Linked DNA regions of Homo sapiens. The protein of the gene in region 2 purifies or fractionates together with the protein of the main gene of each other region. This does not show direct contact. Each region holds a gene or a part of one and is shown on either strand. Other genes may lie near its edges.

Region 1 (3,686 bases), on a different chromosome or scaffold from region 2:
CTTAAAGAATGTTCACAATGATTTAACAAGCCACAAAGAACAGTTTAAATTGTACTCTGTACTATTTAATGAGTATATATAGAATAATTTTAAAATAGTTTTAAACAGAAATATTTTGAAACGAAAACCTTTGACATTTAAAAGTTAACTATCAGTTAATGTTAATATGAACTAATTCATTCTGAAATAGTACCATTCCATTTAAGTACTTTAAAGAATCTGGTATCGCTTTGCACAAGAAAGAGAATGGATTAGTAGTCAAGAGACCTAAAATCTAGGCCTCACCTTTAACAACTCTGGACAAGTTACTTAAGCCCTCTCAGTTTCTTTATCTGAAAAATGAAGAGGTGAGGACAGATTACCTCTAAATTCTAAACTCTATGATTAAATACCTTCGGCTTACCACAAAGAGTACTATAAACATCATCACATTTTACAAACTAAGAAAAACAGACACAGTGAAACCAAGTGACACAACGACCAATTTCAATCCTTGGTCTTGTGCTCTTCATATAGATTAAGCTACTTTGCCTACATCACCAATAACTTACTTTGTCAATACATGGTTTTACACCAATCATGATGGATTCTCCAAAAATCCTCCCATCTTTGCTTAAGGCTTTCCGAGCCTGCAGTTTAGATTGATAACGAATATGCATCCAATTTCCTGTATTAGACATCTGCAAAGAATAAAACTGTCTCTTAAAATAGAAAATATATAAAATCTACATCTAATGAATTCTACTAGAAAATAGGAACATGGTAAGATAAATTTACTTCCATTCCGTATTTGATGCCTTGTAAAAAGCTGTAAAGTTCAACAAAAATCGTATTTAGAACAGCTTCAACAATCTCTCAATTCTCTACAATCAACATGTACATATTCTCTGAAAGTAAGATACTTCTCAAAATATGTTTATTGTAAAGAGATCAAAGCAACACTTGCCATAAAGTTATTTAAAACTACTCAATTTGATTTTGTATAGGAGTTAAGTCAATCTCTAGCAACAAAAAAGGATTTGTTACTTATAACTTGTAGCACAAGGTAAGATAATTTTTTAAATTTTAGAGCTATAAAGCTCTAAAAACTCTAAAAGCTCAGGAACTGCCTCCTACTTCTTTTATCCCCAATAAAAGCAGCTCAAATTGGAAAACAGTAATATAATACTTGGCATAATCTATCTTTTTTAAGACTGTAAACTGTTTAAGAAAGGAGGTGAGAGGAGGTGGATTTTCAAACTCTCAATTCTCCATATCTTCTCACTATATCTCTTTTTATCAAAAATTAGGCAACTTCCAGCCTTCCAGACTTCAAAGGATGTATTATATCAAAACTCAAAAAAAAATTTAAGTTTAAAAAAAACCCACAAAATTCAGAAGCAGTTTCTCTCAATTCACAACTTATCCCTCTTTAGTCAAAACTCTGAACTGAAAAAAATTAAGCCTTACCACATGTTTTAAGATATTCCCATACTGTGCAAATTGTAGTAATATGTAGGAAGCAGATGCTTGAGGAAACCTGAAAAAAAGAGTTGTCCAAAGAAAACGTCAGCTTCTACTATCAATGTGAATGCAAATTACTACAAGATAATGTTTCAAGATAAATGGCCCCCAACTGTCTAGAACGTTAACAGGAGAGTGCTGATCATCCTGTTTTCCCCGATATGGGCTAATTCTGTCAGTGACTAGTCACTCAAAAGCAAATACCTTAAAGTTAGTCTTATCCTGCCATTCTTCTCCATCCTCAGATTCTACCTCTGAAATCTCTAAAAATGCTACTCTCGTTGCCATTATCCAGGTCTTAGAAAAAAAACTATAAAGTTGCAGTTCTATATATAATTTATTTCAATATGTGTATGTTAATATGTAATATATTTAGGTATACTACGGTTATGAAAAGATAAAGAATTTTAAATTATAAACGAATCATTATACATTGAGCATCACTTAAAAATTCTGAAATTTAGTATCATAACAAAGAGAAAATTCAGCATCAAAATATTTATGGTATAGAATCACTTAAAAGGACAGTTACCAAAATTTGATTAGCCATATCTCTGCATGAGAAAATTCTAAGTAATTTTTACTTTCTTCTTTATAAAGTTCTGTATGGTTTGGATATTTTACAATGACATATTATTCTTTTATAGTCTTAACAATAAAGCTGTTTTCAATTTGAAAACAATAACCACTACCAATCGCATAGAAATGGCTATCTAACTTCAGTTATCTGAAGACTGAATTAGAACCCTAAAGAAAAAAAAAAATTCGAGTCTCAAAAATAAATCAGAAACCAAACACATTAAAAATCTATGTGAGGCTGGGCACGATGGCTCACACCTGTAATACCAACCAGCACTTTGGGAGGCCGAGGTGGGTGGATCACTTGAGGTCAGGAGTTCGAGACCAGCCTGGCCAACCTGGTGAAACCCCGCCTCTACTAAAAATACAAAAAATCAGCTGGGCATGGTGGCGGGCACCTGTAATCCCAGCTACTCAGGCGGCTGAGGCAGAAGTATCGCTTGAACCTGGGAAGGAAAGGTTGCAATGCGCCAAGATCGTGCCACTGCACTCCAGCCGGGTGACAGAGTAAGACCTCATCTCAAAATAAATTAATTAATTAAATAAAATCTATATGAGTAAAATATTCACTGCAATCAGAACTGAAAATTCATTTGTATAAAATCTGGACATGAAATTTCTAACCACAAAGAAAAACAACAAATAGGTTGGGTGCCTACAGGGCAGAGATCAAACAAAAATGAAAAGAAGAAAGAATGGCTGCAAGTGAGGGAAGTACTTAAGAAATAAAACATAATTCTAAAACTCTTGGACCACTTTGAGTAGAAACTTACATTCTAGTACTCTATAGCAGAATCACCCAAAACAATGAATATTTCATAACCCTAAGTCAGTAGGAAAAAGTTAAACTACCAAAGAAAGAACATATATAATGCATCCTTTAGAGGTACTTCCCCATAAATGATCAAAATAAAATACTTTATCCCTTAAAGGAGAATGCTTCAGTTCTTGAAATTAAAGTCATAGAGGGTTATTAAAACACGAAAGTAAAAAAATAAACAGCTGGGAGAGTTAATGTCTGAAATACGAAAAAATACTAGGAGTGCTTCAAGTAATTTATCTAATTACTGGAAATCTTAAAAGTTAAACCACTACTACTGAGCCTGAAAAACAGATTTAAGAGTGGGTACCTATTTTCAAAAACATGCAGCCAAGCTGGCTCATGCCTGTTATCCCAACTACTCATGAGGCTGAGGTAGAAGGATTGCTTGAGGCCAGGAATTGGAGGCTGCAGTGAGCTATGATCATGCCACTGCACTCCAGCCTAGATAACAGAGAGATTGTCTCAAAAAAAAAAAAAAGCCATTTTATGAGAGACTATAAAAATGTAAATGTAAAAGAAGAAGAAGAAAAAAAACACACCAGCCCAATTGCTATGGATATAGGACTGAGTATGGACTTTCTAGAGAACAACGGAATGCAATGACCCGCTTTTTACCCAAATAGAAATCAATAACACATAAAATCTCTCTGGAAACATACACAAAAAACAGATGGCAATCACTGCCTTAAAGAGGAGGAAAACTAGCTTGGGACAAAAGCAAAAGGGAAAACTTCATTGTACATTCTTACATACCTTTTGAATTTTTAATTTTAAATAAATT
Region 2 (3,817 bases):
TGGCCGAGGCTGATCCCGGGGCCGAGGGTGATCCCGCAGCCGAGGCTGATCGTGAGGCCGAGGCTACCCTTGTTGGGCACGGGGTTGAGATTGTTGGGCATTTGGGAAGATGGAAAACCAAGAGAAGAGACGCAGGGGATGGACCTGATGGGGAAAAGGGGAAGCGGGGCTTTGCTGGGGTCTGTGAATTGTTTAAAAGCCCGGGGGAAATTCCAGCACCAAAAATACAGCAGCTGGAGCCAGACCCACTTGTGAGTATCAGTGAAAAATGTCCTATTAAGACATTCAGACTGGGCATGGTGGCTCACGCCTGTAATCCCAGCACTTTGGGAGGCCGAGGCGGGGGGATCACCTGAGGTCAGGAGTTTGAGACCATCCTGGCCAACATGGGAAACCTTGTCTCTACTAAAAATACAAAAATTAGCCGGGCGTGTTGGCATGCGCCTATAATCCCAGCTACTCCGGAGGCTGAGGTAGGAGAATTGCTTGAACCCGGAAGGCAGAGGTTGCAGTGAGCCGAGATTATGCCACTGCACTCCAGCCTGAGCAACAGAGGGAAACTCTGTCCTTAAAAAGAAAAAAAAAAAGACATTTGCAGTCCGAATCCAGCAATCAGTGAAAAGAAAATGCCTGGTATGCACATGGGGTATTCTGGGAACAGCAGGTCCAGCCCTCAGACATCCGTGGCCCCCTTGGCAGTGCCTGGGTATCTCTGCCCATTGGCCCCCACAGCTGCCTGGACCCAGTTGCTTCTCACATGGCTTCGAAGTTCCTCTGGCCTTCTGGAAAGGTAGCAAGAGCCACCCAGAAGTTCATTTTTCTTCCTGTTTTCAGTCTCTTGCCAGCGGCTGACAGGCCGGTCCACGGTGAGGATGTGTGGTCGGCTGGGTACTGTCCTGGGCACACCTGCCCCCTCACCACCTCCTCATCAGACCACCAGCCCAGAGGTGGCTCCTGCTGTCAAATGGGGAGAGGGGTCCTGACCCCCTTCCTGCCTGGGAGCCTGTGTTCCTGCCACATCCCACCTCCTCATGGCTGCTGGTTAGAGCAAGGTCTGAGCCCGGCCTTTGCAAACATTTCCCCTGGAGATGCCACAGCCCGGTGGGGTCTCTGGTTTAGTGTAGGGCTCAGCTCGTGGCACCCCCAAGTTGTGTGTCCTCCCTCATGCTTCAGAGAGCAGCCCCCGCAAGGGTCCTCAGTTCCCGACAGGAGCGCAGGGGGCCTGGGTCCAGTCGTCTGTTTTCAACATGGAGACGATGCCCTCAAGGCTGCTTTGCCTGACGTAGCCGTCAGCTGGCATTGCAGCAGCATAGAAAACTCCATATAGAAAGATCTGTGTAGAAGGACCCACGTAGGGGGCCCCACTGGATACTCCTCCACTGCAGGCTCAGGTGCTGTCACTGTCTTTGTTTAGTTAGAGGAGTGCTTGGACTCGGCGTGATTTTTGGACTCTGGACGTTACAAAAGGAAGTGAGACGGCACTTCGGGGCCATGGTGGCCACCATGTTCTGCTGGGTGACGGCCATGCAGTTCCACCTGATGTTCTACTGCACGCGGACACTGCCCAATGTGCTGGCCCTGCCTGTAGGTACGTAGCTGCCGGCCGGGCCTGCACACCCATGGTGCCGGGCAGGGGCTCCCCTGAGTCGGGCTGTGCAGCTGATGGCAGTGCCTCCCCCGTAATGGCCATTCCCCACTGGGTTCCTCAGGATGGTCTGTGACCTGAAACCAGGCTCTTTGTTTTCCATGCTGGGTTGGGACACACTTCCTGGCCAACAGCATAGGTGCGGGGAGCGGCTCTGAGCAGTTTCTTTTCTGGGATATTTGTGTGGCTTTTATAATAGGAAAAGGAATCACCCTTCACTTCCCCGGGTGTTTTCTGGGCCGGGTGGGCCCTGTGTCTTGACGAGCACCCTCCCGCACTGTCTTGCAGTCCTGCTGGCCCTCGCGGCCTGGCTGCGGCACGAGTGGGCCCGCTTCATCTGGCTGTCAGCCTTCGCCATCATCGTGTTCAGGGTGGAGCTGTGCCTGTTCCTGGGCCTCCTGCTGCTGCTGGCCTTGGGCAACCGAAAGGTTTCTGTAGTCAGAGCCCTTCGCCACGCCGTCCCGGCAGGGATCCTCTGTTTAGGTAAGTCAGTCACTGTGGGATGCTTCTAACTGGATTTTGTTTTGCCTTGTTTTACAAAGGTCAAGAGAAATTTGGGAGGTTTTCATCCCCATGAAATAAAATGACCCTAAATTTAGCAGTGTTGAAAACATTTCAATCCTAAGCCCCCTGCCCGGGGATCTCCAGGGGGACCCACCGTGCGCCTTAGGAGCCCCTGTTCACTGGTCTGTCCCTTGTCCTTGGGCTGGGGGAGGCCACAAGAGTGGAGGGCGGCTTGTCCCTGCGCCAGGCGGTGGTTCTGGGCAGTGGTGTCCTCGACACAGTTGGTGTCTTTTTTCTTTTTTTGTTTTAGAGATAGTCTTGCTCTGTCACCCAGGATGGAGTGCAGTGGCATGATCATGGCCCACTGCAACCTTGAACTCCTAGGCTCCAGCAATCTTCCCACCCTGCCCAACCTCTTTTATATGAAAGCAGCTTGTAGTTTCTGTAGTGATGGGGGCTGCATTGTGGCGGGATGTTTACTGATGGCTGTGTTTGCGACTAAGAAACTCTATTTTATTTTGTCAGGACTGACGGTTGCTGTGGACTCTTATTTTTGGCGGCAGCTCACTTGGCCGGAAGGAAAGGTGCTTTGGTACAACACTGTCCTGAACAAAAGCTCCAACTGGGGGGTATCCTTCAGTGTCCGTGCAGGAGGGCGATGGGTGGGACCTGCAGCCACATCTCCTGGGCCTCCATGGGCAGTGGAAGCAGCTGCTTCTCCCTTCTCTGCAGCGTGGCTGCAGGGTCAGGATGGAGCCCCTCCCTCCCACTTGCTCCTGGGAAATGCTGGCCATGGGAGGTGAGGTCCTGGCTGCCCTCTCTCAGCCAGGAAACAGCCTGAGGGCTGGAAACAGCCCTGCCCCAGATTACCCCAGCCTCTCCTCTGCTCCTCGGACAATCTGCTTTTTTTTTTTTTTTTTTGAGACTGAGTCTCGCTCTGTCGCCCAGGCTGGAGTACAGTGGTATGATCTTGGCTCACTGCAACCTCCACCTCCCTGGTTCAAGCAATTCTCCTGCCTCAGCCTCATGAGTAGCTGGGACTATAGGCGCACGCCACCACACCTGGCTAATTTTTGTATTTTTAGTAGAGGTGGGGTTTTACCATGTTGGTCAGGCTGATCTTGAACTCTTGAACTCAGGTGATCCACCTGCCTTGGCCTCCCAAAGTGCTGGGATTACAGGTGTGAGCCACCACGCCCGGCCCGGACAATCTGCATTTAAAAAGTGCTTTCTTAGGAATTATGTCAAACATACACGCATAGATGGAACAGCATAACGAATCCCAACATGTGTGTCACCCGTGACCGTCTGTTTTTTGTTTTTTGGTTTTTTTTTTTTTTTTTTTTGAGACAGAGTCTCACTCTGTCGCCAGGTTGGAGTACAGTGGCATGATCTCGGCTCACTGCAACCTCCAACTCCCTGGTTCAAGTGATTCTCCTGCCTCAGCCTCCTGAGTAGCTGGGATTACAGGCACATGCCACCATGCCCAGCTAATTTTTGTATTTGTAGTAGAGACAGGGTTTCACCATGTTGGCCAGGATGGTCTCGATCTCTTTACCTCGTGATCTACCCACCTTGGCCTCCCGAAGTGCTGGGATTACAGACATGAGCCACTGCGCCCGGCCGACCATCTGTTTTTAACAGTGAAGAAAAGGGTACAGAGACCGA

What was found.
Region 1: the proteins of ALG12 (region 2) and NUP35 purify together in Homo sapiens (affinity purification with mass spectrometry; one large-scale study listed by BioGRID and IntAct). This does not show direct contact.

The regions. Positions count from the first base shown.
Region 1 is NC_000002.12:183,155,277-183,158,962, reverse strand, and holds part of NUP35 (nucleoporin NUP35), read right to left. Parts: intron 1,520-3,686; coding exon 1,450-1,519; intron 681-1,449; coding exon 552-680; intron 1-551. UniProt on the Homo sapiens protein: Functions as a component of the nuclear pore complex (NPC).
Region 2 is NC_000022.11:49,908,205-49,912,021, reverse strand, and holds part of ALG12 (dol-P-Man:Man(7)GlcNAc(2)-PP-Dol alpha-1,6-mannosyltransferase), read left to right. Parts: intron 1-1,414; coding exon 1,415-1,588; intron 1,589-1,933; coding exon 1,934-2,128; intron 2,129-2,674; coding exon 2,675-2,778; intron 2,779-3,817. UniProt on the Homo sapiens protein: Mannosyltransferase that operates in the biosynthetic pathway of dolichol-linked oligosaccharides, the glycan precursors employed in protein asparagine (N)-glycosylation.